4 linked regions of the Homo sapiens genome follow. The protein of the gene in region 1 purifies or fractionates together with the protein of each later gene. This does not show direct contact. Each region holds a gene or a part of one and is shown in the gene's direction. Other genes may lie near its edges. The genes, in order: ALG10B, TRAFD1, KCNH2 and VIPR1.

Region 1 (7,859 bases):
AATGTTTTCCTAAACTTAGAGTCCCAAACAATGTTTCCATGCTTTTAAAAACTGGAGCATTTGCAGTTTATTTATCAAAATAAAGGCTTTTAAAGAACATTTCTTGGAAAATAGAAATAGATTTTAAGTTGTTGTTTATTGGTTGCTGCTACCTGAACCATCACTAAGCTGGTCCGGGGGCAAAAAATAAGAAAAACTAATCCTGTTCTGCCAAGGACTTACTTAATCTTGTCATAGACTAACTTCTCAAAATTTCTGATTGTTGCTGGAGATGAGACTTGGGCTTGACATATTTGTGTCTGTCTTGTTCGTATTACCTCTTGCTTTTACTTCATTTTCTTTCATTTTAAAGTGGGATCCCATGATTACTACATTACCTGGCTTGTACCTGGTGTCAGTTGGAGTGGTCAAACCTGCCATTTGGATCTTTGCATGGTCTGAACATGTTGTCTGCTCCATTGGGATGCTCAGATTTGTTAATCTTCTCTTCAGTGTTGGCAACTTCTATTTACTATATTTGCTTTTCCACAAGGTACAACCCAGAAACAAGGTATGTTTCAAAATACTTAATTACAAGTTTATGTGTAGTCAGGTCCACAATTACAATGAATTAGTTTTATGAGATTTGGTGAAAAATGTCTTTAACACTTTGTAACTTTGTATTTTTTGTATATTATGTAAAGGTAAATTTAAATTCTCCATCTCCATTTTAGAATAAATTTGTATTTAAATACTTGAATAACTTATTTGTAAACTCTAAAGTAAATATTTGTTAAGTGAGTCAAACCAGTTCAATAAATACTTACTGAGCTTATTCCATGTGCTGGGGACTGGGACTACAGAGATAAATGAGGCAGTCTTTTTCTTGTAAAACGTATATATTCAGTAGGGAAAACAGACTTTACCTGAGGACTTTTGATGTGGTAATAGTGCAGGCCCCGGAGGTCGATTGCCTGGGTTAGAATTCTCTCCCTGCCACTTAACCAGTTTTGTTACTGTGGGCAGGTTAACCCTTAGTGGCTCCATGTCTTCATCTGTTAAATAAGAATAACAATAGAATCTGCCTTATAGAACTGTTATAAAGGAACAAGGAAACTTAATAAATGGAAGATGCTTCAAATAGTGCCAGATATATAGTAAGGGCTCAGTAAATATTAACTCTAATAATTATTTTTAACCTTAAGAGATTATTTCAGTAGTGTCAATTATGATAGAGTAGTAGACATAAGATGCTATGAGGACACAGAGAAGGAGCAGGGAAACACTTACTGCTTTTCTGGGAGGGAGAGGAGTATGTGGCATTCAGTAAGTCCTCACAGAGAAGATGGTACCAGAGCTGAGTCCTGATGAACGGATAGGGCTGTGTAGGGTGAGGAATTAATCCTGGGGAGACAAACAGCATAAGCAAAGGAAGAAAGGCATTGAACAATGAGGTGCAGGGAATTGGTCTTGGAATTACAGGATTAGAAAGTAGAGGGATGTAAGGCTAGAGAAGTAGGTCATGAATGCCCTCATATGTCACAGAGAGGACTTTGAACTTTAGCATGTAATGGAGAGACCTTAATTTTAATCAAGGAAATGACATGGTCTGATTTAGTGATTTAGATTAAGTGGAGTATACAATTCAAGAACATAAGAACACTTTCAAATTCTGAAATAGCATGTCAGAAAGGCCAAAATAAGATATATAAGTTTAGACTGGCTCACTTTTCAGAAAAATACCGTTATTTCATCATGAAAATATCATCTTGAAAAAGTAAGTCTGGATATGGTAAAATAAATACCATATGCATGTTTACATTCTCCCTTGTGTAGTGTTATGAAGGATTTCCTTAAAGGAAAGTGGTGATTATGGCTAAGTGAATCCTTATTGAAGGCACTAAAACATAAGCTCAGGGAAATGGAGCCAGCATTGTGTCCTATTTATCTCCATAGTCCCCACAGAACTTAGTCGGTATCTTGCACTCAGTAACTCCTTAACTAATCATAGCCTGATTCAAATTGTGTTAAGCTATAGAAGCTTTGGCATACACACGGTCTCCAAACTGATAGGTATAAATAAAAAGTACCAGGAAGTGTTCTTATAAATGTTTATTGTGTTTTTGCAAAGCCAGAGATAAGATTAATATTGATTAATTTTATTTAAATAAGGTTTGAGTAGTTGAGTAGTTTTAAATAAATCTCTTCATTAGGTAAGCAGAAATAGCATTTATCATTAAAATAATTGTATCTGTGTTTTTTCTTCCTCCAAGGCTGCCTCAAGTATCCAGAGAGTCTTGTCAACATTAACACTAGCAGTATTTCCAACACTTTATTTTTTTAACTTCCTTTATTATACAGAAGCAGGATCTATGTTTTTTACTCTTTTTGCATATTTGATGTGTCTTTATGGAAATCATAAAACTTCAGCCTTCCTTGGATTTTGTGGCTTCATGTTTCGGCAAACAAATATCATCTGGGCTGTCTTCTGTGCAGGGAATGTCATTGCACAAAAGTTAACTGAGGCTTGGAAAACTGAGCTACAAAAGAAGGAAGACAGACTTCCACCTATTAAAGGACCATTTGCAGAATTCAGAAAAATTCTTCAGTTTCTTTTGGCTTATTCCATGTCCTTTAAAAACTTGAGTATGCTTTTCTGTTTGACTTGGCCCTACATCCTTCTGGGATTTCTGTTTTGTGCTTTTGTAGTAGTTAATGGTGGAATTGTTATTGGCGATCGGAGTAGTCATGAAGCCTGTCTTCATTTTCCTCAACTATTCTACTTTTTTTCATTTACTCTCTTTTTTTCTTTTCCTCATCTCCTGTCTCCTAGCAAAATTAAGACTTTTCTTTCCTTAGTTTGGAAACATGGAATTCTGTTTTTGGTGGTTACCTTAGTCTCTGTGTTTTTAGTTTGGAAATTCACTTATGCTCATAAATACTTGCTAGCAGACAATAGACATTATACTTTCTATGTGTGGAAAAGAGTTTTTCAAAGATATGCAATTCTGAAATATTTGTTAGTTCCAGCCTATATATTTGCTGGTTGGAGTATAGCTGACTCATTGAAATCAAAGCCAATTTTTTGGAATTTAATGTTTTTCATATGCTTGTTCATTGTTATAGTTCCTCAGAAACTGCTGGAATTTCGTTACTTCATTTTACCTTATGTCATTTATAGGCTTAACATAACTCTGCCTCCCACATCCAGACTTGTTTGTGAACTGAGTTGCTATGCAATTGTTAATTTCATAACTTTTTACATCTTTCTGAACAAGACTTTTCAGTGGCCAAATAGTCAGGACATTCAAAGGTTTATGTGGTAATATCAGTGATATTTTGAACTGTAAAAATGGACTTAATAATTAGACCATTTCTACAAAGAACAACTGAATAGGTGGAAAACATGGAATTTCTTTTAGGTGCAGTGGTGGTCCTCAAATTACATTAGTTTTTTTAATATATATTTTAAACATATGTAAGAAATTAAGTGGCAAAGAACTGGGAAAGCTTAAGACCTGCTTCAAAAGCCTGAATAATGGGAAAATAAAATTGTTTTCAGATATCTCATATCGCTCTCGTAATGTTGGCCCCTCACAAAGCTTGGGAATGTTTTGTATGTATAAGTTTATTAAAACTGGGTATGCTTCATATTACTAGAACTAATTTATTCTCTTCAGAGAGAACTATTAGGTTAGTGCAAAAGTAATTGTGGTTTTTGCCATTGAAAGTAATGGCAAAACCACAATTACTTTTGTACCAACCTAATAACAATGTGTTAGCAAATATTTACAAATGGTCAGGTGATATTCTTGACTGAAAAGTTCCTTAACATTTCAGTAAATATAATTTTAATTCTAAGTCAAAATAGAAATGCATAGATAGTAAATGATAAAGTAGAGACTCATATATGTCTGTCTAGGCATCAAATTGTTGGTTATTGTTTACAATCCAGAAATGATGAAGCTCTTTCACTAATTCCTAATATGAAATGTATGATGGCCAAAGACAAATTGTGTTGATTATAATCCTTTAAAAGGGGGATTTCCTTTATGAAATACATATTGTATTAGCTTCCCAGGGCTGCCATAACAAATGACCACAAACTTGGGTGCTTACAACAATTTTCCTCACAGTCTGGAGGCCAGAAGTCTAAAATCAAAGTGTCAGCAGAGTTGGTTCCTTCTGGAGGCTCTAAGGAAGAATCCATTCTATGTCTGTTTCCTAATATCTTGTGGCTGTCTGCAATTCTTGGAGTTCTTTGGCTTATGGGCATATCTTGTCTAAGTATTGCAGACAGCAATCTTCACTCCAGTCTCTGCCTCTGCGTTCACACGGCCTTTCCCTCTGTCTTTTCATTACCTTTTAAGGACAGTGTCTTTGAATGTAGGGCCCACCCTGATCTAGGGTGATTGTGTCTGGAGACCCTTAATTATGTTTACAAAGACCCATGTTCCAAGTAAGTTTGTATTCACATGTTCTGAGTAGACATTGTCTCTTCATGGGATACTTTTCAGTCCATGACAGTTACTAAAGGACATTTTAGGATAATCCTCATATGATTGTTAGGAGACTACCTTTAAAAATTTTTTATTATATATCAAATTATAGTTGTATATACTTATGAGGTACGAAGTGGCATTATGATTTTTGAATATAATGTGGGATGATTAAATAAAGCTAATCTATCCATCACCTCAAATATTTGACATATTTTGTGATGAAAACATTTGAAATGTACTCTCAACAGTATTGAAATGTACATACAGTGCTTAATTATTAGCTGTATTCACCATGTTGTGTAATAGATCTAAAAAAAGTCAAACATATTCCTTCTATCTAATTGAGGCTTTGTATCTTTTGATTGTCATCTCCCTATTCCCACATCCCCGGCCTCTAGCAACCATCATTCTTCTCTCTACTTCTGTGAGTTTAATTGTTTTAGATTACACAAATAAGTGAGATCATGTGGTATTTGTCTTTCTGTGCTTGGCTTATTTCACTTACCATAATGTCCTCCACGATCATCCATATTGTTGCAAATGACACAATTTCTTCCTTTTTAAAGGCTGAATAGTATTTTTTTGTATATATATGCCACATTTTCTTTATCCATTCATCCATGGATGGACACTTAGGTTGATCGAATCACTTGGTTATTGTGACTTGTCTGCAATGAACATAGAGTGCAGACTTCTCTTTGACATACGGATTTCAAATCTTCTGGATAAATAGCCAGAAGTGGGATTGTTGGATCAGGAGATAATATCTTAGCTGATACCTTTTAAATAACTCTCAGTATCTTTACTGAGAGGTTAAAAAATAAGTGACTTCTTAGGTAATATAAAGCTAAAGGTGACTAGTGTTTGATTCCATTATCTATTAAAAAAAGTCAGAATTGAAAGAAAGTTGAGAAATCCTTTGGTCTGACTTTGTAGATTAGGGAACAACTGCTGGGGTAGGATTATTTTGTGTTACTTTTTGAATTTTGTGTTTATTATTTTGAGTGTATTTTTTGGGTTGTCATTCCATTACAGGAAAGTATTATTTGGGCATGTTAACTTTGACATGTAAACTTAGAATTGTGAATAGAACTCATCTTTTAACATAATTTTATGTTTCTAAACTTTAAAAGTAGCTATAAGTGAACAAATTACTTTCCCCTCAATGTCAAATTTTGCTTCTCTGAGTTTTAAGTGATGAGTCTACATTTACAAATATAAAATTGTGTGCAGGTGAAAATTACAAGTATAATTTGAGTAATAAATGCAGGCCATTTTTTGGTTGTACTCTAGTACTCAGAAAATAGATCGGCATTAGTTATAACAGTGATTGTAGAAAAACGTGTTTTACCCAGACTTCTTAAAAATTAGATGAGAGAGGACACTCAAAGAAATTATACTTTTGTCATTAATTTACTATAGTGGAGAACTAAATCTGGGAAGTCAAAATTGAAAAAAGAATGTGTAATTTAGGGAAAGTAACTTTTTGTCTGATAATATTAATGCAAGGATTTTGTATTTAGGAATACTTCTGAGAGGAGAAGCTTCCACTCTGATCTAGTCTGGCAAAATTGAGGAAAATATTCTACCCTGTAATTAAAGAAGACTGCTCTTTGGAGGGATCACTGTTCTATATCTTTTTTTGTTTGTTTTTGTCTTTGAGGAGAAGTCTCGCTCTTGTCCCCCAGGCTGGAATGCAATGGCGCGATCTTGGCTCACTGAAACCTCCACCTCCTGGGTTCAAGCAGTTCTCCTGCCTCAGCCTCCCGAGTAGCTGAGATTATAGGCGCCCACCACCAAGCCTGGCTAATTTTTTCTATTTTTAGTAGAGCCGGGGTTTCACCGTGTTAGCCAGGCTGGTCTCGAACTCCTGACCTCAGGTAATCCACCTGCCTCGCCTCCCAAAGTGCTGGGATTACAGGCGTGAGCCACTGTGCCCAGCTCTTCTAGTTCATTTTTAAGTGTTGAGTCCCTGCTGTTTAAGAGATGTTTTGGTGAAAATCTACATTCAGAGAGAAACAGGTTAATCTTCCACATTTTTTATAAAATACATAAAATATAGTACTTGGCATTTTAAGAAAAGAATGCCATGTATTAAAAGGTGCTATTTTCAACTATTTATTATTTTAAAACAGGAATGCTTATCAATACTTTCGAATTTAAGATAAATGTCTTCGTTAAATTTTCTAGGCAGTTCAAAGATGGCCATTTGCTGGTGAATTTTCCAAAATAGATAACAGATAAAATGATTATGTAAGAACTTGGCACAACAGATCATTTTGCCTTTAGTCGTTCAAGAAATGATACTAAACTCAAAGTCATTCACTTGAAACAACTGAGAAGACCATTCTTAGGTGTTTAGATCCTTGCTTTTAGAAACATTCTTAGTTATATTTGTGTTTTCAAAAGTTATTGAGTAGATAGATATTTTTTCATGAATTTTTAAACATTAGACTTAGCTGAATTGATTAAAATTAGGTGATTATGAAAAAAATATTGCCCTGCTCGAGGGCATCTGGAGCCCTACAGTTACCATTACTAAAGTCTGTGAGTATGTCTATTTTGAAAAGTGTCATAAAAATATCTAGTCCATAAATCATTATAGGTTCAGTAATACATCATTTTGAACTGATTCTATCTTCTGTGAAATTCTAGAGATATGTTATCTTTAGGTAGCATGAGTAAGATTCAGGTATGCTGTGAATTTTGTTAACGTTTATGTTTTCCATTAATGGATAGTCAGGAATCTTTTGAACTGCGTCTATGTATTTAAATGATTTGGAAAGATAGCATCTCTCAGTTTAAACTTAGCATCTCATTTTGGCAAGATAAATTATTTTAGCTGTCTGGCCTTTTCTTTGTCTTCTTAGAGTTATTTCTGAAATGTGCATAGCCAGTCATAAAATAACTTGTGTAAATAGCCTAATGTAATTTATTTCTAATAAATACGTAGCTTAATGAAATGTATTTCTAGTTTGAACTTAATTGCCACTTGGCTTGATATTATTTTCCTTAGAATTGTTGGAAGAGAGGAGAGAGGAAGGGATCTACCATTTTTATTTATACCACCTAAATAGTGGACTGTTATTTTGGACTCACTTTTAAATAAAATATTTATTCACATGAAGAAATAAATTTTGTGTTTATTAGGTTAGCAAGCGTTTATTATCTTTGAAGTAATTGGAATTTCATTAAAAAGTGAAGCAAGTAAGAATTGTGATATAAATTTGAAAATTTTTAAATGGAAATTGAAATATGACTTAGGAACTGTGGGCTTGTAGAAAAAAACATTTAACATGGGAGTTAAGATTTTTATATTTGGTTGTGGCTCTGGGATCAATAAGGCAAGTGGTTTAGTCTTTAGTCCTCATTTCAAAT
Region 2 (7,859 bases), about 74 Mb from region 1:
TGATCTACCTGCATAGGTGGTACTACAGGTATAGGCCTCTATGCCTGACTAATTTTATTTATTTTTGTTTTTCATAGAGTTGGGGTCTTGTTATGTTGCCCAGGCTAGTCTCGAACTCTTGGCCTCAAGTGATCCTCCCTTCTTGGCTTTCCCAAATGTCGAGATTACAGGCGTGAGCTATGGCATCTGGCCAAAACTGGCCAACGTTGAATGAGTATGTTAATTCACCAATTTAAAAATCCAGCCGGGCGTGATGGCTGATGCCTGTAATCCCAGCACTTTGGGAGGCTGAGGTGGGTGGATCACAGGGTCAGGAGTTCGAGACCAGCCTGGCCAATATGGTGAAACCCCGTCTCTACTAAAAATACAAAAATTAGCTGGGCGTGGATACGCACGTCTGAAATCCCAGCTACTCAGAAGGCTGAGGCAGGAGAATTGCTTGAACCTGGGAGGTGGAGGTTGCAGTGAGCCGAGATCGTGCCATTGCACTCCAGCCTGGGTGACAGGGTGAGACTCCATCTAAAACAAACAAAAAAAAACTGGCTCACCTTGTTTTCAAGTGTTGACATAAACAGTCAAAAGCACCACTCAGTCTTTTATAATGCAAGTGAAATCAGTGCTGTGCCCCTTCAAGGAACCACGTGACAGTTTGTTCAGTTGAGCACAAGTTCCTTGCAGGAACAGTTGCTGGCAGAAGGGCTGTGTCTACAGCCCATGTGGAACCAAGGACAGTTTTCCCATTCAGTAGGGAGCATCCCTCAGCCTTGATCTTCATTTCTTGGCTGGGCGCAGTGGCTCACGCCTGTAATCCCAGCACTTTGGGAGGCTGAGGCGGGCGGATCACGAGGTCAGAAGATTGAGACCATCCTGGCTAATACGGTGAAACCCCGTCTCTACTAAAAATACATAAAATTAGCTGGGCGTGGTGGCGGGCGCCTATAGTCCCAGCTACTTGGGAGGCTGAGGCAGGAGAATGGCGTGAACCCGGGAGGCGGAGCTTGCAGTAAGCCGAGGTTGCGCTACTGCACTTCAGTCAGGGCGACAGAGCGAGACTCCGTCTAAAAAAATAAATAAATAAAAATAAATAAATAAAAATCCAAACAGCTGTTTATATGGTAGTTATAGAAGAGTGGATATACATATGTAAAAATTCACCAAGGTATATACTTAAAGATTTGTGCATTTCATTCTGTGTGCCTCAAACTGTAACAACTTGATTTTATTAATTTATAATTAAATTACCCTTAAAGGTAATTCACAGCGGGCTACAGTGACTCATGCCTGTATCCTAGCACTTTGGGAGGCCAAGGCGAGAGCATTGCTTAAACCAAAGAGTTCAAGACCAGTCTAGGCAATATCGTGAGACCCCTATCTCTACAAAAAACTAAAAAATTAGCTGGGAATGGTGGTCCGTTCCTGTAGTCCCAATTGCTCGAGGGGCTGAGGTACGATATTGTTTGAGCCTGGAGGTTGAGGCTGCAGTGAGCCCTGTTTGTGCCACTGCATTCCAGCCTAGGCGACAAAGTAAGACCCTGTTTCAAAAAAATAAAAATAAAAATAAAAAGGTAGGCCAGGCGCAATGACTCAGCCTGTAATCCCAGCACTTTTGGAGGCAGAGGAGGGCGGGTCACTTGAGGTCAGAAGTTCAAGACCAGCCTGGTCAACATGGTGAAACCCCATCTCTACTAAAAATACAGAAATTAGCCAGGCATGGTGCCGCATGCCTGTAATTCCAGCTACTCGGGAGGCTGAGGCAGGATAATTGCTTGAACCTGTGAGGCAGAGGTTGCAGTGAGCCAAGATCACACCACTGCACTCCAGCCTGGGCAACAGAGTGAGACTGTCTCAAAAAAAAACAAAAACAAAAACAAAAAATGCTGGGCGTGGTGGCTCACGCCTGTAATCCCAGCACTTCGGGAGGCTGAGGCAGGCAGATCACATGAGGTCAAGAGTTCAAGACCAGACTGGCCAAAGTGGTGAAACCCCATCTCTACTAAAAATACAAAAATTAGCCAGGTGTGGTGGTAGGCTCCTGTAATCCCAGCTACTTGGGAGGCTGAGGCAGGAGAATTGCTTGAACCCAGGAGGCAGAGGTTGCACTGAGTCGAAATCATGCCATTGTACTCCAGCCTGGGCAACAGAAGCGAACTCCGTCTCAAAAAAAAAAAAAAAAAAATTAAACTAAAGTTCTATTCTAAATGCTACTCCAACATTTTCAGCACTGTTTGTATATACATGAACTACCTCTTGCAGGAAACACAATAAATTGATAAAAAGGCCTTAGGTAGCAGAGGAACAGGGGAGAAGAGACATGATTTTTACATATATCCTTTTTGGGCTTTAAAATTGTATACCAGCTGTGCACAGTGGCTCACGCCTGTAATCCCAGCACTTTGGAAGGCCAAGGTAGGAGGACTGCTTGAGCCTAGGAGTTTTGAGATCAACCTGGGCAACATAAGGAGACCCTTGTCTCTACAAAATAAAAAATAAAACAAAAAACCTAGCTAGGCATGATGGCATATACCTGTGGTCCCAGCTACTTGGGAGGCTGAGGTGGGAGGATTGCTTGAGCCCAGGAGGTCAAGGCTGCGGTAAGCCATGATCGTACCACTGCACTCCAGCCTGGGTGACACTGAGATCCTGTCTCAAAAAAAAGAAAAGAAAAATTAAAATTAAAAAATAAAATTTGATACCATGTAGATATAATGCCAATTCAGAAAGTTTTTTTTCAAAAGCTTTTTTTTTTTGTTTTCCACTCTGTCACCTAGGCTGGAGTGCAGTGGTGTTATCCCAGCTCACTGCAACCTCCACCTCCCGGGTTCAAGCAATTCTCCTGCCTCAGCCTCCCGAGTAGCTGGGAGTACAGGTGAATGCCACCACACCCTGCTAATTTTTGTATTTTTGGTAGAGTGGGGTTTCACCATGTTGGTCAGGCTGGTCTTGAACTCCTAACTTCAGGTGATCTGCCTGCCTTGGCCTCCCAAAGTGCTGGGATTACAGGCGTGGGCCATTGCCCAGGTCCCAAAGTTCTTTTATTAGATAAATAACACGGATTTGCTAGGAGTAGTGGCTCATACCATTTGAGGATGGGAGTTTGAGACCAACTTGGCTAACGTGGTGAAACCCCTTCGGTGCTAAAAATACAAAAAAATTAGCTGGGTGTGGTGGCACGCACCTGTGGTCCCAAGCAACTCAGGAAGCTGAGGCACAAGGATTGCTTGAACCCGAGAGGTGAAGGTTGTAGTGAGCTGAGATTGCACCATGCACTCCATGCACACCACTCTGTCGCTGGGCGACAGCAAGACTTTCTCAAAAAATAATAATAATAAATGAAAAATAAAGCCTGTGCTAAATACAAATATGAAGGTTAGAGAAACCTGTGTCTTTCTAAAGTGCAGTTTCTTTTCCTCATTATTAGGTACTTAAGACTGAATTGGAGGCCGGGCGTGGTGGCTCAAGCCTGTAATCCCAGCACTTTGGGAGGCTGAGGCGGGCGGATCACAAGGTCAGAAGTTCAAGACCAGCCTGGCCAACATAGTGAAACCCCGTCTCTACTAAAAATACAAAAAATTAAGTGGGTGTGGTGGTGTGTGCCTGAAATCCCAGCTACTCAGGAGGCTGAGGCAGGAGAATCGTGTGAACCTGGGAGGCAGAGGTCGCAATGAGCCAAGATTGCGCCATTGCACTCCAGCCTGGGCGACAGTGCGAGACACTGTCTCAAAAAAAAAAAAAAAAAAAGACTGAATTGGAATAGTTGGTAGGGGACAGGGACATTGGAGCTTTGACAAACATCTGACTTGCTATGATTCTTGTTATTTGCTCCTGGGCTTCTCTGGCTGGTTTTAGATTACTAAGTAATGTGTGCACAAAACAATATGATAGTTAGGGTGGCTGAGTAGTGGGCTCCCTCTAATATTTTATTTTCCTTTATAGAACATTGTGGCAGGAACAAAAGGGGAAGCTGTGACTCTTAAATAATTAAATACATTAAAAAAGGGTAGGAGAATCAAGGGTTGGAAGAGAAGATTGCAGTAGATACTCTTGGCTTTCCTTGCCCTATACTAAAACACACCTCTCCTAGATATGCATATTAACTGCCTCATTCCTCTGTTTTGTAGGAGACTGAGTGCCCTTTGCGGCTTGCTGTCTGCCAGCACTGTGATTTAGAACTTTCCATTCTCAAACTGAAGGAACATGAAGATTATTGTGGTGCCCGGACGGAACTATGTGGCAACTGTGGTCGCAATGTCCTTGTGAAAGATCTGAAGACTCACCCTGAAGTTTGTGGGAGAGAGGGGGAGGAAAAGAGAAATGAGGTTGCCATACCTCCTAATGCATATGATGAATCTTGGGGTCAGGATGGAATCTGGATTGCATCCCAACTCCTCAGACAAATTGAGGCTCTGGACCCACCCATGAGGCTGCCGCGAAGGCCCCTGAGAGCCTTTGAATCAGATGTTTTCCACAATAGAACTACCAACCAAAGGAACATTACAGCCCAGGTTTCAATTCAGAATAATCTGTGTGAGTTGTGCTTGGGATTAGGGAACTAGAATGGTATCAAAATCCCAAGGCAAATGGGAACAGGGCTTTGGGGCCAGATAGATCTTGATTATAGAAACCCGACTGTAGCTGAGTAACACTGGGAAGAATACCTCTCTTTCCTATAAAATGGAAATAACCTCCATTGGATTATAGTTAGGGTTCATAATGGTGAGTATGATGACAGTGTTGTAAATAGCCAACACTTATACAGATTGAGTATCCCTTATCCAAAATACTTGGGGCCAGAAGTGGTTTGGCTTTTGAAGTATTTGCATTATATATACTGGATGAGCATCTCAAATCTGAGAATCTGAAATCCAAAATGTTCCAGTGAGCATTTTCTTTGAGAGCCATATTGATGCCCAAAAAGTTTCAAATTTTGGATTTTTGGATTGGTATGCTCAACCTGTATCTTATTTCCCTTAGGCATTTGCAAAGTGCTTTATACGTATTAACTCATTTAATTCTCTCATTATTTGAAGGTAGGTAAATTTGAAGGTAGAACTGAGATTTGAATTCAGATAATCTGACCTCGTGCTTTAAACCATTCTACTGTAATTCAGAAAATAAGTATAAAATGTTTAGCACAGTGCCTGTCTCATAATTATGGCTCAGTAATATTGCTTAATAATACAGTTAGAATAATAATGGAGCCTTTTCACAGGGCAGACTTTAATGTTCAAAGCTAGGAGACCCAGAGGGTGAAGAGAGCTAGTTGAACATGGTCATTTTTATTCCTTCCCGGATGCCTGTAAACCTTGACTATTTGCTAGGCATGGACTTGAGTTGAGGGTGGTAACATTTCTAATGTATCCTGAATGTTGGTTGGTTTTTTTTTTTCAGTTGAAGAACAAGAGAGGCAGGAAAGGAATAGAGGCCAACAGCCCCCCAAAGAGGGTGGTGAAGAGAGTGCAAACTTGGACTTCATGTTGGCCCTAAGTCTGCAAAATGAAGGCCAAGCCTCCAGTGTGGCAGAGCAGGACTTCTGGAGGGCCGTATGTGAGGCCGACCAGTCTCATGGCGGTCCCAGGTCTCTCAGTGACATAAAGGGTAGGCTTGCTTATTCTGCACTAGCCTCTTTCTCTACAGTTTTTGTAAGTCTTAGGTTATACAATTCTTATACAATTGAAAGATTTTAATGAAATAGAATTTGCCTTACTCTTTTTTGTTTCTTTTTTCTTTTCTTTTTTGGGACAGTCTCGCCCTGTCACCCAGGCTGGAGTGCAATGTAATGATCTCGGCTCACTGCAACCTCTGCCTTCTGGGTTCAAGTGATTCTCGTGCCTCTGCCTCCCAAGTAGCTGGGATTACAGGTGAATGCTTGAACCCAGGAGGCAGAGGTTGCAGTCAGCTGAGATTGTGCCACTGCACTCCAGCCTGGTGACAGAGTGACACCTTGTCTCAAAAAAAAAAGGCTCTAAAGGACATTATTGTACAAGTAGAGAACTTACATTAAAGTTGCTGAGAGTGACATCCGTATTGTTTACATAGGAGAAAGCAGTGCCCTTGTTCTTCAAAGGCACATGATGAAGTACTTAGGAATAAAATGTTATGTGTTCAAACTTATTCTCAAATAGTTCAGGGGAAAAATACATAAAAGTAATGTGAGGAAATATTAAGCTTTGTGAATATAGATGAGGAGTATATGGGTATTTGCTATACTATTCTGAACATTTTTTTTTTTTTTTGGAGATGGAGTTTTGCTCTTGTTGCCCAGGTTGGAGTGCAATGGCACGATCTCGGCTCACTGCAACCTCTGCCTCCTGGGCTCAAGTGATTCTCCTGCCTCAACCTCCTGAGTAGCTGGGATTACAGGCATGTGCCATCACGCCTGGCTAATTTTTTTTTTTTTGAGACAGAGTCTTCCTCTGTTGCCCAGGCTGGAGTGCAGTGGCACGATCTCGGCTCACTGCAACCTCCGCCTCCCGGGTTCACGCCATTCACCTGCCTCAGTCTCCCGAGTAGCTGGGACTACAGGCGCCCACCACTACACCCGGCCAATTTTTTGTATTTTTAGTAAAGACGGGGTTTCACTGTATTAGCCAGGATTGTCTCGATCTCCTGACCTCGTGATCCGCCTGCCTCGGCCTCCCAAAGTGCTGGGATTACAGGCGTGAGCTACTGCGCCCAGCCATGCCCGGCTAATTTTTTGTATTATTAGTAGAGACGGGGTTTCGCCATGTTGGCCAGGCTGGTCTCAAACTCTTGATGTCAGGTGATCCACCTGCCTCAGCCTCCCAAAGTGCTGGGATTATAGGTGTGAGCCACTGCGCCCAGCCATTCTGGGTAATTTCTTATCGGTCTTCTAGTTCACTGATTTTTCTCCGTAGTTATTTCTAATCTGTTGTTTAATGTGTCCCTTAAGATTTTCACTTAGTGATTATATATTTCATTTTGAGTTCTGTTTGATCCTTTTCCTCATTGTACCTCCTAATTTTTAAAATAATCTTTTGTTCCATAGTCATATTACAGTTCCCGCTTTGGTTTTTTTTTTTTTTTTTTTTTGAGGCAGGATCTTGCTCTGTCACCGAGGCTGGAGTGCAGTGGTGTGATCGCGGCTCACTGCAGCCTCCGCCCCCAGGCCTCAAGTGATCCTCCCACTTCAGTCTCCGATGTAGCTGGGACCACAGGCATGCACCACTACCTTTTTTTTTGTATTTTTAGTAGAGATGGTTCCTTACCATGTTGCCCAGGCTAGTCTCGAACTCCTGAACTCAAGCAATCTGCCCCACCTCGGCCTCCCAAAGGATTGGGATTACAGGCATTAGCCACTGCGCCCAGCATAGTTCCCTCTTTAACATGTCTTTAAACATGTTAAATATACTTATTTTTCTTTTGTGTCCAAAAATAGCAAAAACTGTTTCTTTGCTATGTTGTTTCTGCGTCTCCTGTTCATGGAGGCTTGCTACGTGTGTGTGTGAACACCAAGTTTTCTAGCATGTTCCTCTGAGAATTTATAAATGCTTCTGGCAGGCACATAGAGATACTACCATTAGGGGTAACTTTAAGCTTTTGGCCTGGACTTTTTTTTTTTTTTTTCTTGAGACAGAGTCTCCCTCTGTTGCCCAGGCTGGAGTGCCATGGCGCGATCTTGGCTCATTGCAACCTCCGCCTCTGGGGTTCAAGTGATTTCTCCTGCCTCAGCCTCCAGGGTAGCTGGGATTACAGGCTTGTACCACCATGCCCGCCTAATTTTTGTATTTTTAGTAGAGACAGGGTTTTACCGTGTCGCTCAGGTTGGTCTGGAACTCCTGACCTCAGGTAATCCACCCACCTTGGCCTCCCAAAGTGCTGGGATTATAGGTGTGAGACAC
Region 3 (3,834 bases), on another chromosome or scaffold:
CAGAGGCTGACGGCCCCACGTGCCCACGCCCCCAGCCCTCATGTATGCTAGCATCTTCGGCAACGTGTCGGCCATCATCCAGCGGCTGTACTCGGGCACAGCCCGCTACCACACACAGATGCTGCGGGTGCGGGAGTTCATCCGCTTCCACCAGATCCCCAATCCCCTGCGCCAGCGCCTCGAGGAGTACTTCCAGCACGCCTGGTCCTACACCAACGGCATCGACATGAACGCGGTGAGGCCACCAGAGCGTGGCCAGTGGGTGGCAGGCTGGGAAGAGTGGGGTGGCAGAGGGGAACCTCTTGGCACAGCAAACAAGTCTCAGGCGGTCACAGTCAGTAGTAAGGACCCTGGAGGCACGTTGCCCCTTTTTGCCCATGAGGAAATGGAAGCCCTTGGAACCCCTTCCCTGGAGAGCTCCCCTTTTGGGGTGGGAGGTATATGTCACATAGGCGATGGGGTTAAATCCTTGTGACAGCCCAGGGCGGGAATGGTCTCTATGCCTTACAAATAAGAACATGGAGGTCTAGAGCCCAAGGGTGCTCGGCCAGGCATGGTGAAGCTGGAGTGGGGTCCCAGGTCCTTCCCAAGACACTGGGCCCCCTGATGCTTCCGAGATCTCCCAGGCCTGGAGGTTGAGATTTCTCTGACATGGAGGGGTGGGATGGTGGAGTAGAGTGTGGGTTGGGGGGTCCCAAGGGAGGGTGTGCTGAGCTGCCCCCACCCTGCCCCCAGGTGCTGAAGGGCTTCCCTGAGTGCCTGCAGGCTGACATCTGCCTGCACCTGAACCGCTCACTGCTGCAGCACTGCAAACCCTTCCGAGGGGCCACCAAGGGCTGCCTTCGGGCCCTGGCCATGAAGTTCAAGACCACACATGCACCGCCAGGGGACACACTGGTGCATGCTGGGGACCTGCTCACCGCCCTGTACTTCATCTCCCGGGGCTCCATCGAGATCCTGCGGGGCGACGTCGTCGTGGCCATCCTGGGTATGGGGTGGGGGGCGGGCACTGGACTGGAAATGCCCTCTGCAGCCTCAAGAGGTGCGAGCCTTCTGAATATGCAGTCACTGGGGCTGTGGACCTGGGACTGCCTGCAGGGTCACTGGGCTCCTTTAATTCACCTAAACTCAGGCCCTCCAAGCGGGGCCATGGAGAGGAGCCCCACGTGGGGTGAGGCTGCTGAACTCTGGGGTTCCCACATTCTCCTTCCCTTCAGGATCCGCCACAAACAGACACTTTTTGCTTCCTTAAAGTAGGATCAAATCTAGATCCTCTAGCCTGGGCAGTAGAGGAAGAAATGCTAGCCTGGAAGCTCGGCATTTGGTTTCACTAAGGGCCATGTGGTTCCCTGCAGCCTCATGCCTGGCCCCTTGACACATCCAAAGCAAAGGGAGTCCTGCCCCCTCCCCCCACTTCCTTTCTACCCTGCCTGTGCACAGTGGGTGGGTTGGTGTGTCTGGACACTGAGGACTTCCTCCCCCTTTGCCTGTCCTTCCCTCGGCCCTGTGTGCCTCAGGGCAGATATAGCAAGCTCTTTCGACCATAGTTGATGGTAGGACATTTTAGACTTTGTTTCTCAGCTCTGTACAAACACAAATACACACCCCCACAAAACTAAAATCAAAGTTTCACTACATAACACTGGGCCTTACTGCATGTGGTTCATTCTAGCATTTCTGTTCTGTGCTGTGCTAAGCTATACTACTGTATGTTCTTTCAGTAAAAAAAAAAAAAAAAAAAAAAAAATGCTGGTTTTGATTCACTACTGTGTTCTGATCTTTGGTTTGAAGAACATTGCTTATAAGGGTGCAGTGATTGGCTAAGAGGGTGTTTGGGACCTGGGGTTTGGGGTAGTCCTGCTGGCTGGGTCTCATTTGCTGGGAGACCCTGGGCTCCTGGCCCCTCTGGCACTGTCGTGCCTGCTGGGAGCTGAGGGAGGGTGGGCTGGCAGATTGCTTCCCCGGTTGTGTGGGTTGGGGGCCGGCTGGCAGGCGACCCAGCTGAGGGGACATGCTCTGCCCGGGGTGGGGATGCCGGGAGAAGGTGCCTGCTGCCTGGATGCCGCCCCCCGGGGCTGAGCTCCCTGTCCTCTCCATGGCCTCCAGGGAAGAATGACATCTTTGGGGAGCCTCTGAACCTGTATGCAAGGCCTGGCAAGTCGAACGGGGATGTGCGGGCCCTCACCTACTGTGACCTACACAAGATCCATCGGGACGACCTGCTGGAGGTGCTGGACATGTACCCTGAGTTCTCCGACCACTTCTGGTCCAGCCTGGAGATCACCTTCAACCTGCGAGATGTGAGTTGGCTGCCCTGAGCTGGACCCCATCCTCCTGCTTCCAGCTGTGTGGCTGCCCCTTTGCTGTGTGACATTGAATGTGATGCTTCTCTGTCTCAGTTTCCCTGTCTGTCAAATGGTATCATAGAGCAGCCTACAAAAGTCCCAAACTCAGTCTTTGCCTGGGGCAAAATCACATTGGGGGCAGGGAAGGGTTTTCCCAGAGCTGGGGCGCCCAGCCCTACTTTTTCTGTGTTAAGGAGGGAGCTTGGGGCCTGACCCCGGTGGGGCAGGAGAGCACTGAAAGGGCCCTGATACTGATTTTGGTTCCAGACCAACATGATCCCGGGCTCCCCCGGCAGTACGGAGTTAGAGGGTGGCTTCAGTCGGCAACGCAAGCGCAAGTTGTCCTTCCGCAGGCGCACGGACAAGGGTGAGGCGGGGGAGGGGAGGAAGGGGGAGGGCGGGGACAAGGTGAGGCTGGGAGCTGGAAGGCGGGGTGGGCCGTGTCTGCTTTACCCAGGCCTCAGACCTTCCCATCCCTTCCTCCAGTGTGCCCACTCCACACCCCAGCTGTCCAGATGCTGCCCATCTTTCAGGGCCCCTGCAGCTGTCACCTCCTCCAGGAAGCCCTCTTCCACCCTCCAGGGCAAGCCTAGGCTTTTTGGACTTCACAGGGCTGGGGTCTCTGTGAGCACTGAGGAGGAAAGAACATAGAACAAAGGAGGGCCAGGGAGCCAACGATGGGGCTGAGGCCCCGCAGTCCCAGAGATCCGCCAACCCCTGAAGCACCATTGCCAGTGCTTGGGCAGTCAGGGGGTCCTGGGAGTTCTTGGTCGGCTTGACAGTGGGTGCAAGATAGCAGAAGAAGCGACTGGGGACAAACCAGGGCTTCCTGCCCAGTCCTCTCTCGGGCTCGCTCCTGTCCCCTCCTCCACCCTCGCCCCCTCCTCTCTGTTCTCCTCCCCTCTCTGAGGCCCATTCTCTGTTTCCCACAGACACGGAGCAGCCAGGGGAGGTGTCGGCCTTGGGGCCGGGCCGGGCGGGGGCAGGGCCGAGTAGCCGGGGCCGGCCGGGGGGGCCGTGGGGGGAGAGCCCGTCCAGTGGCCCCTCCAGCCCTGAGAGCAGTGAGGATGAGGGCCCAGGCCGCAGCTCCAGCCCCCTCCGCCTGGTGCCCTTCTCCAGCCCCAGGCCCCCCGGAGAGCCGCCGGGTGGGGAGCCCCTGATGGAGGACTGCGAGAAGAGCAGCGACACTTGCAACCCCCTGTCAGGTATCCCGGGCGACGGGCGGGCGAGGGAGGACCGGGCGTGGCAGCGGTGGTGCGTCTACCCCGCTCACCCAGCTCTGCTCTCTGGCTGCAGGCGCCTTCTCAGGAGTGTCCAACATTTTCAGCTTCTGGGGGGACAGTCGGGGCCGCCAGTACCAGGAGCTCCCTCGATGCCCCGCCCCCACCCCCAGCCTCCTCAACATCCCCCTCTCCAGCCCGGGTCGGCGGCCCCGGGGCGACGTGGAGAGCAGGCTGGATGCCCTCCAGCGCCAGCTCAACAGGTGAGG
Region 4 (7,859 bases), on another chromosome or scaffold:
TGGGGAGCCAGATGGAAGAAGAAAGGGGCTAACAGGCTTCCACATTCCCACCCCAGGTCTGGGGAGCTCCCAGCCGCAGCTAAGGAGGACATACTAAATTGGGGTTCTGAAAAGTACATGGAGCCAACTCTGCCTCTGGGGGTCCCTATCCCTCTTCTCCAGGAAAAGTGAAGATCTCCATGGCGGCCAGCCCACCCAGGACACAAGGCCCAGGGTGCTATGTGGTGGGGGATCTGTGACCAATGAGGGCAGGCAGGTTCCAGGACCCCCTGGAGCTGGCATGGGAGAATTAGCCCCATAACACCACACTCCAGGATTAGAACATTGTACTGTTAGCATCTCCAGAGGAAGAAGAGGCACATTCAGTCACAATATGTGACCCCCACAGGGACCACATGGAAGCTCAAAGCCATCTTAGTGGTCCCGAGCAAGAAGGGGCACAAGTTTTGTCTGGAAAGATGTGGAATACTCACCACAGCCAATATTCAGCCTGGAAACTGAGGCCCACTCCTCCCTCTCAACCCCAGGCTCTGCCTCTGCTACATCCAGAGGACCGATAGTGACACCACACACACACACACACACACACACACACACATACACACACGCCCAGCCCCTAAGCATACACATACAGGCAAACACACTGGCCTCTCCATCCCAACCCACCCTTAGTGGCCAGATGAACCATCAGCTCATTATTCGGCTGATGAGACAAGTCAAGGTCAGCCCCAGGGGCTGAGCACATGAGGGCCCCAGCCACTCCTCCTCAGGGGGCTGGGAGAGCCCCACCTGGCAGTGTGAAGGGTAGTGCCCAGCTACCAAGACTGGACAGCAGGGCTATCAGGACAGATGACAGCACCCTCCTTTTGACTCAGCAGCCCCAGGTAAGAATGGATGGAATTCTTTGGTACCACTTGAACCAGACTTGGAGGGGTGAGCAGGTTTGGAGAAACAGAGAGTCTGGGAAGGTGGGAGGCACTGAGGCAGACTTCCCATGGGGAGTGGGGCATGGTTGGCAGGTTCAAGTCTTACTGCCAGGGACACCAGCCTGGCATGTCTGGGCTGGAGGCATGAGATGGCTGGGCCCGTTCTGGGCCTCCATCCCAGGCCATCTCCCCGCGGCTGAGCTTACAGTTATGTAACAGCCTTGCTCAGGAGCAGGGAGCATCTTTACGTCTTCCTGGCTCCCTAGTTCCCCTTCCACCTCTCTAAAGCTGACAGTTATGTAACCCCTTCTGGGTCCCTCTTCTTGGCCCTGGTGCCCAGGCTGTCTGCCTCCTGTTCTGTAAGTGAGTATGTGTAGCCTCACAGATGGGCTTTGCCTACCCTTGTCTCAAAGCAGGACAACCCCTTGACTCTAGGGCCCAGAGACTGAGGCATGGGTCACGGGGTGGCTGGGCCTGCCCACTACCTACAGGCCCCACCCCACTCCACCAGTGCAGGGAGCCAGGACCAGGTGCAGACAGGCTTTGGCAGGCCCCAGCGGTGGGATCATAGGCAGCCCCAAGAGGCCCAGACTCTAGACTCCACTGCGCACCTCCCACGCCTGGGGACAGGCCACCCTCGTGATTCCAATGAGGTCACTGCTGGCACAGCGTTCCCGTCGGGTGCCAACACCCTGTCACCAGCAGCCAGGCTGGGATGCAGAGAAGGGCCAGCATAGGTTGTGGCCATGGGTCTGCCCGTGACCTTCTGTAGGGCTCTGTGCGTGTTCATGCACATCTAGGTATGCGCTCCTGGCCCATGTCTGTCTGGAGCTGCGTCTGTGCCTCTGGGGTCTATAGCTCTGTGTCTGACTCTGAGTATCTTTGTGAGTCAGAAGTGTGTGTCTATTTAAGCTTGGGCACATGCCATCTCGACATGCCTAGATGTGTCTGCCCAGTGTGCTGTGTCTCTGTGTGTTGGCTTGTATGTCTATCAGTGTGAATGTCAGTGATACACCCAGACATGTCTGTCTCTCTGAATGTATGTCTCTGTGAGTTGTGTGTCTCTCTGTGCCCATTTGCTTGTGTCTGTGGTCTGTGTTCAGGTAAGTGTACATGTGTGCATGTTTGCATGTGTGCCTGGTGTTCTGTGTACTGGCATGTACATGTCAGTGTGTGTATCTCTGTGTGCACACAAGTCTACAAAATGACACAGCAGAGGCCCCACCTCATCTTGCCTCACCATCCCTTACCCCAAGCTCTGGGTTGGGCTTTCCTGCTGAGGGCACAGCCCCACCTGTGGGCACACACAGCCAGCCTGGGCCCTGTATTTCTGTAGGCCTGGTGACATGTGTGATGGGACCTATGGGGCCTCATTAGGGCAGGCACACAGGAAATACTCCCGTTGCCTAGCCCAGGACAACAGGCCATTCCAGGTACCAAGTATATTCATGGCTGTCACCCCGTCCCCTGCTTCCCTGACCATGTCCCTCATATTGGCCTCTCATCCTGCTCCCCTGCCCTGCTGGCTGCCCTACACCCCAGCACCAGTTCACAGCCCAGCCTTGGTTATGCTGAGATTCCTTGAGGCCAAGTGTGGCCTCCCAAGGGCAGGGCCTGGTTTCCTCTCTTCTGTCCCACTGCAGTGAAGCAGAGCTCAGGGCCAGAGACCCAGCCCCGGATTCACTCCCTGGCCTGTGCTGGCAGCCGGAGGTTTAGAGAGCCCAAAGTCTGGCAGGGACTCAGACACAATAGCCGGCCTACAAAACAGGGCGTGCCCAGTGCTGTCAGAGAGGGGTAAACAAAGTCCAGCAGCAGCAAAATTCCCAGAGAAATGACAGGCCTTCCAACCAAGAGGAGTGGGAATAGACTGTACCGCTTACCAGCAACATGACCTTGAGCTGGTTTTCTAATCAGTCTGTGCCTCCATTTCCTCATCTGTGAAATGGAAGCATTAAATAAGTTATTCATCCAAAGAGGTTAGAACAGTGCCTGGCACATGCAAATGTTATATGAATGTTTGCTGATATTCTTAACAGGGTCTTGAACCCCCAGCAGGGTTTGACTGACCTGAAGTGCCCCTACTCAGCTTTCAGAGAAGCTGGCCCAGAATGGAAGAGGGACTGACAGCCAACATGAGGCCACAAGAGCCCTCAAGACAGGTTGGGGGAAAAGTGGTCAGGGTCCATGACCAAGGAAGGCTGCAATCTCTGGCCAAGCCCTAGGGATCCAGGTGTCCTCCTCAGCCTTCAGCTATAGATGTGGCCTGACTGCTGCAGCCCCAGAAAGTGCCCCTTGCTGCTGCCAGCCCACTCCAATGCACACAGTCCCGAGGCTCTTCCCCAAGTAAACACATCCCTCCACCTCCTCTTCCCAGACCCCCTTCTTGGGAACTTGTGAACCTTCGGACCTGAGCTGGGCTGGGCTGGGCTTGGCCCAGCTGGCGTTGACTTTGGCTCAGGGGTTGGGTTTTCTGAGCAAATCTATGGGACTGGCAGGATTGCAAAGAGACAATTAAGCCTCCTGCATGGGATGGGTCCAGAGCAGTCCTAGTCCCTCACGGGCATGAAGCTTCTGAACAGACTAAATGATGGCATTTGCATGTGCCTATTCAAGCAGACCCCTAGAGACCACACTGTGCATCTTTCACTGGCCAGGCTCTGCAAGGCTGTGGCGGAGAATGCAGCCACAATGCAGGGTTTTCGCTGCACTTGTTCCCTAACTATTCCCCTCCATCACAATTCACAATCCGACCACGTTGGGGGAATCTGTGTTGTTCAAGAACTAGGTGCGGGCTGGGCACGGTGGCTCATGCCTGTAATCCCAGCACTTTGGGAGGCTGAGAGGCAGGTGAATCACCTGGGGTCAGGAGTTCGAGACCAGCCTGGCCAACATGGCGAAACCCCGTCTCTACTAAAAATACAAAAATTAGCCGGGTGTGGTGGTGGGCTCCTGTAATCCCAGCTACTCAGAAGGCTGAGGCAGGAGAATCACTTTAACCTGGGAGGTGGAGGTTGCAGTGAGCCGAGATCATGCCATTGTACTCCAGCCTGGGCGACAGAGCAAGACTATGATGGGGTGATGAGTATATTGGGATGCATCTAGTTCTTTTTTTTTTGAGACAGAGTCTCAAAACATTTTCTAATGCCTCCTTCACTATCATAATATGAAATTCAGGACACGTACCCATCCACTTTATAAAAAATAATGTTCTAGCTATACTGTAAAATAAATATTAAAAGGAAAGTAATTTACAATAAAGTACCATGTACATATTCAAGCATAACCACACTAGATGTAGTCTGAAGGTTGTACCTACAAATATAAATCCTGGGAATGTGAGGCCTACAAATGCAGACTGATGGACACAGGTAGTTGTATCGGTGACTCAAGTATCACAGGCAGCACTGCTATGGGTATCATGATTTTCCAAAACATTGAACAACTCTTAGTGAAGTTCAGAACAAAACAAAATACAATCTTCCCTCCCTTTTCTCAGTGGCTGCATTCCTGGAAAACTCCATGTATGTTAAACTTGTGCAATAAACAGCTTGTGTTGGCCGGGCGCGGTGGCTCATACCTGTAATCCCAGCACTTTGGGAGGCCAAGGTGGGAGGATCACTTGAGGTCAGGAGTTCGAGATCAGCCTGGCCAACATGGTGAAACCCTGTCTCTACTAAAAATACAAAAATTAGCCGGGCGTGGCGGCATGGGCCTATAGTCCCAGCTACTCGGGAGGCTGAGGCAGGAGAATTGCTTGAACCCAGGAGGCAGAGGTTGCCAAGGTTGCACCACTGCACTCTAGCCTGGGTGACAGAGTGAGACTCCATCTCAAAAAATAAGTAAGTAAATGGCGTGTGTTTATACATAAAATGGTGTAAGAGTCTAGGCTCTGGTCATTATGAAAGGTTTTCACCTATACATATGCCCAGTGGCTCATCTGGAAGCCATGCAGAATGTGAGACAATTCATCATTGTGCAGGAGTTGTCTGTCTGGCATCCCTGGTGACTGCCCATCAAATGCCAGTGAGGCCCCCCTATTGCTGCAACAGTCAAAACCACCACTGGCATTGGAAACATCCCCAGGGGGCGCTCCATCCCTCACTAAGGACCAAGGAACTGTAGTCAGGCCTCCTTCCTGCCTCCCTGTCAGGACAGCCCCGTGCAACCTCCGCAGGGCTGTGCCTCCCCTCTCAGACTGGAGGCTCCTTGAGGTGGGAGCCTGGCAGAGGGAGGAAGAGAGTGGGTGCCTATGGCCTCAGGCCCCAGGGCTGGAGGCACCTGCACTGTGCTCACCCATGTGTCTTCTGCCTTACCCCCATAGGCTGCAGCAAGATGTGGGACAACCTCACCTGCTGGCCAGCCACCCCTCGGGGCCAGGTAGTTGTCTTGGCCTGTCCCCTCATCTTCAAGCTCTTCTCCTCCATTCAAGGTAAGACCCCTGGGTTGAAGAGGTGATGTGAGTGGGGCCGGCTGGAGTGGGGACTCACCTCTCAAGGAAGTGGAAAGGCAAAGGAAAGTGGTCAAAGAGGCTGGAGCAATCCGAGGGACTCCCTGGCAGAGGAGGCAATGGTGCTGGGTCTTTAAAGAACTCACAGGATTTGATTAGCTCTTCACATAAAGATAAGCATGTGGGAAAGGCTCACTAAATATTTGCTCAACAATTGATAACTGATTGACTGACAGGTACTTGATTAAATTATGACTCCCATAGTCCTGTTGTCTTGGGCTGGTCTTGATTCAGTCTTTCGATGCCTGGAGCCTATGACCTCTTGGGCTCCATGAAGCCACCACATGACTTTGCTTACACACCTTGTCATGTTCCACTTAAATGAATGTCCACAGAATGAGGCAGAAAAGAAAAGGGGGAGCCCCTTTAGGAGGTGGCTTTCTAGCTAGTGAGTCATTAAAGAGATTCACAATATAGATTCAGTCATTCTTTTGTGCAGTGAATGAAGCACTTACCAGTGTGCCAGGCACTGAGCTGGACAAACACAGTGGAGAGAGGATAAAACAGCCCCCGGGGCTGCTCTCCCAGAGCTAGCATTCTCATTGGAGAGACATTTAGTAAGGAAATAAACAGATGTATCATCAATAATAAAAAGTGCTGGACGAGAGAATAAGGAGAGTGGGGACTAACTTAAGGCAGAGGTTCACAAACAGCCCCTCTCTGAGGAGGTGACACTTCATCTGCAATCTGAAGACCTGGAGGTGAGAAAGAACCACCAGGCAAAGATCCCAGATTGGGGACAACTGAGAGAGAGAATCAACAGCCCGTGGAACAAGCATCCAAGGAAGTTCCGTGAAGGCCAGTGTGGCTGGAGCAGGGAAAGCACCAGGGATGAAGGGAGGGGAGGGACAGGTGCGCCGAGGCCAGACCATGCAGGGCCTTGAGGACAGAAGCGAAGACTTGAGTTTTTTCCTAAGTCCAGTTAGAAGTGGGGGGTTTTAAGCAGGGGACTGACAAAGTCCAATTTAGATTTTTAACGTCTAACTGGTTTCTGTGAGAAGGAAGAATTCTAGGAGTGTAAACAGGAAAACCCAATCACAAGGCAGGCAGGAAATGATGGCTTGAATTCAGGTAGTGAGCTCAGTGCGGGAGAGAAGTGGGAGAGTTGTTTATGGAGGGAATGGGAGTGAGTGAGGCGAGGGAGGAATCAAGCAGGCCCCACCCTAGGCTTAGGTTTAATGAGCCTTAGGGAAGAGAGTGGGACTGGGTGGGGAGCATGGAGGGAGGGGCAGGCCTAGAGTGGGGAGGACTCATGAGGAGCAGAACTTATATAATTATTCAGAGAGCGAACAGAACTCAGGCATCTCTCACTCCAGATGGCCTTTTCCTCCCTGGACCCCAGTTTCCCCGTTTGTAAAGTGGGGATAGGTGGTAGACCCCAGGGTCTCTTTGGGGTAAGCCAGTTTGCCCCCCAGTGCCTGCTGTTGTGACCTCAGTAGTGAAAGATAGAACTTGAAGCCCTCCTGAGGAGTCTGGGAGGGTCACAGCCATGCCATATTCCAGGCCAGTGCCCACCTAGCCTGGTCACCTCCTCCAGGGACACCCAGTGCCTGGGCAGATAAGAGATGAGTTCCTCTGGCAGGTTTCACAGTGCACGCCATCACCAAGCCTGGAAACTAGCCTTCTCTCTGATCCCTGGAAGCACCTGCTAATTGCCTTTCTCCCTGAGACTCTGCTAACTGCATTCCTCCCCATGGCTCTTCCTTCTGTCCCTGCTGGAATGTGTCAAGGCAACTCCTGCCCTTGAGAACCTGGACTCCAGCCCACCATCTAGCTAACCCTGAGGCTGCCGCCATCAATGGGGCCCATACGGTGCCTTTGGACTGACAAGAAAAAGGCAGTCCTTCCTCGGGCAGAGATGACCTCTCACTAGAGCCCACCTAGTGACAAGCAGAATATGCCTACCGGCCAGGTGCCCTTGTAGAGTGAACAACTTGCACAGCCATACTCTGTGGGCCTGGTCTCTGAAAATGGTGGAGAGAAATAAGAGACTGCGATTAGGGACTGAAAACAGAAAAAAGACAGTGTTCTCCTGAGCAAGTAGATGAAGAAGTTGTGGGCAACCGACCTGAAATTCCAAAGAGGGAAGTTTGCAAGTGTGAGGCAGGAATGATGGCATCACCAACTCACACAACAGGCCTGGGAAGAATTATATCCACGGGAAGGGACCTGGTTATACAGGGAAAGCTAAATAAACCTTATAGAAGATAAAAATTGTGGAGAGTTAGAAAAAAGTCATCTACCTAGACTGGATAAAATACCTGAAGGAGGGAGTTTGGCCAGGCAAGGAATTGCTCATTAAGACATCAAAATGTTCATGGTAGCTCACTTCTTTATTTTTATTTTATTAATGTTTTGAGATAGAGTCTTGCTCTGTCACCCAGGCTGCAGTGCAGTGGCACCATCTTGGCTCACTGCAACCTCCG

The links.
Region 2: the proteins of ALG10B (region 1) and TRAFD1 purify together in Homo sapiens (affinity purification with mass spectrometry; one large-scale study listed by BioGRID and IntAct). This does not show direct contact.
Region 3: the proteins of ALG10B (region 1) and KCNH2 purify together in Homo sapiens (affinity purification with western blotting, with the first as the bait; one study listed by BioGRID). This does not show direct contact.
Region 4: the proteins of ALG10B (region 1) and VIPR1 purify together in Homo sapiens (co-immunoprecipitation; one large-scale study listed by IntAct). This does not show direct contact.

The regions. Positions count from the first base shown.
Region 1 is NC_000012.12:38,317,909-38,325,767, forward strand, and holds part of ALG10B (dol-P-Glc:Glc(2)Man(9)GlcNAc(2)-PP-Dol alpha-1,2-glucosyltransferase), read left to right. Parts: intron 1-352; coding exon 353-550; intron 551-2,252; coding exon 2,253-3,305; 3' UTR 3,306-6,004; coding exon of another isoform or gene 6,005-6,016; 3' UTR 6,017-7,859. UniProt on the Homo sapiens protein: Dol-P-Glc:Glc(2)Man(9)GlcNAc(2)-PP-Dol alpha-1,2-glucosyltransferase that operates in the biosynthetic pathway of dolichol-linked oligosaccharides, the glycan precursors employed in protein asparagine (N)-glycosylation.
Region 2 is NC_000012.12:112,136,701-112,144,559, forward strand, and holds part of TRAFD1 (TRAF-type zinc finger domain-containing protein 1), read left to right. Parts: intron 1-4,118; coding exon 4,119-4,524; intron 4,525-5,388; coding exon 5,389-5,595; intron 5,596-7,859. UniProt on the Homo sapiens protein: Negative feedback regulator that controls excessive innate immune responses. Regulates both Toll-like receptor 4 (TLR4) and DDX58/RIG1-like helicases (RLH) pathways.
Region 3 is NC_000007.14:150,947,322-150,951,155, reverse strand, and holds part of KCNH2 (voltage-gated inwardly rectifying potassium channel KCNH2), read left to right. Parts: intron 1-35; coding exon 36-235; intron 236-735; coding exon 736-988; coding exon of another isoform or gene 989-1,257; exon of another isoform or gene 1,258-1,747; intron 1,748-2,106; coding exon 2,107-2,300; intron 2,301-2,612; coding exon 2,613-2,712; intron 2,713-3,277; coding exon 3,278-3,550; intron 3,551-3,641; coding exon 3,642-3,828; intron 3,829-3,834.
Region 4 is NC_000003.12:42,513,976-42,521,834, forward strand, and holds part of VIPR1 (vasoactive intestinal polypeptide receptor 1 isoform 1 precursor), read left to right. Parts: intron 1-5,247; coding exon 5,248-5,355; intron 5,356-7,859. UniProt on the Homo sapiens protein: G protein-coupled receptor activated by the neuropeptides vasoactive intestinal peptide (VIP) and pituitary adenylate cyclase-activating polypeptide (ADCYAP1/PACAP).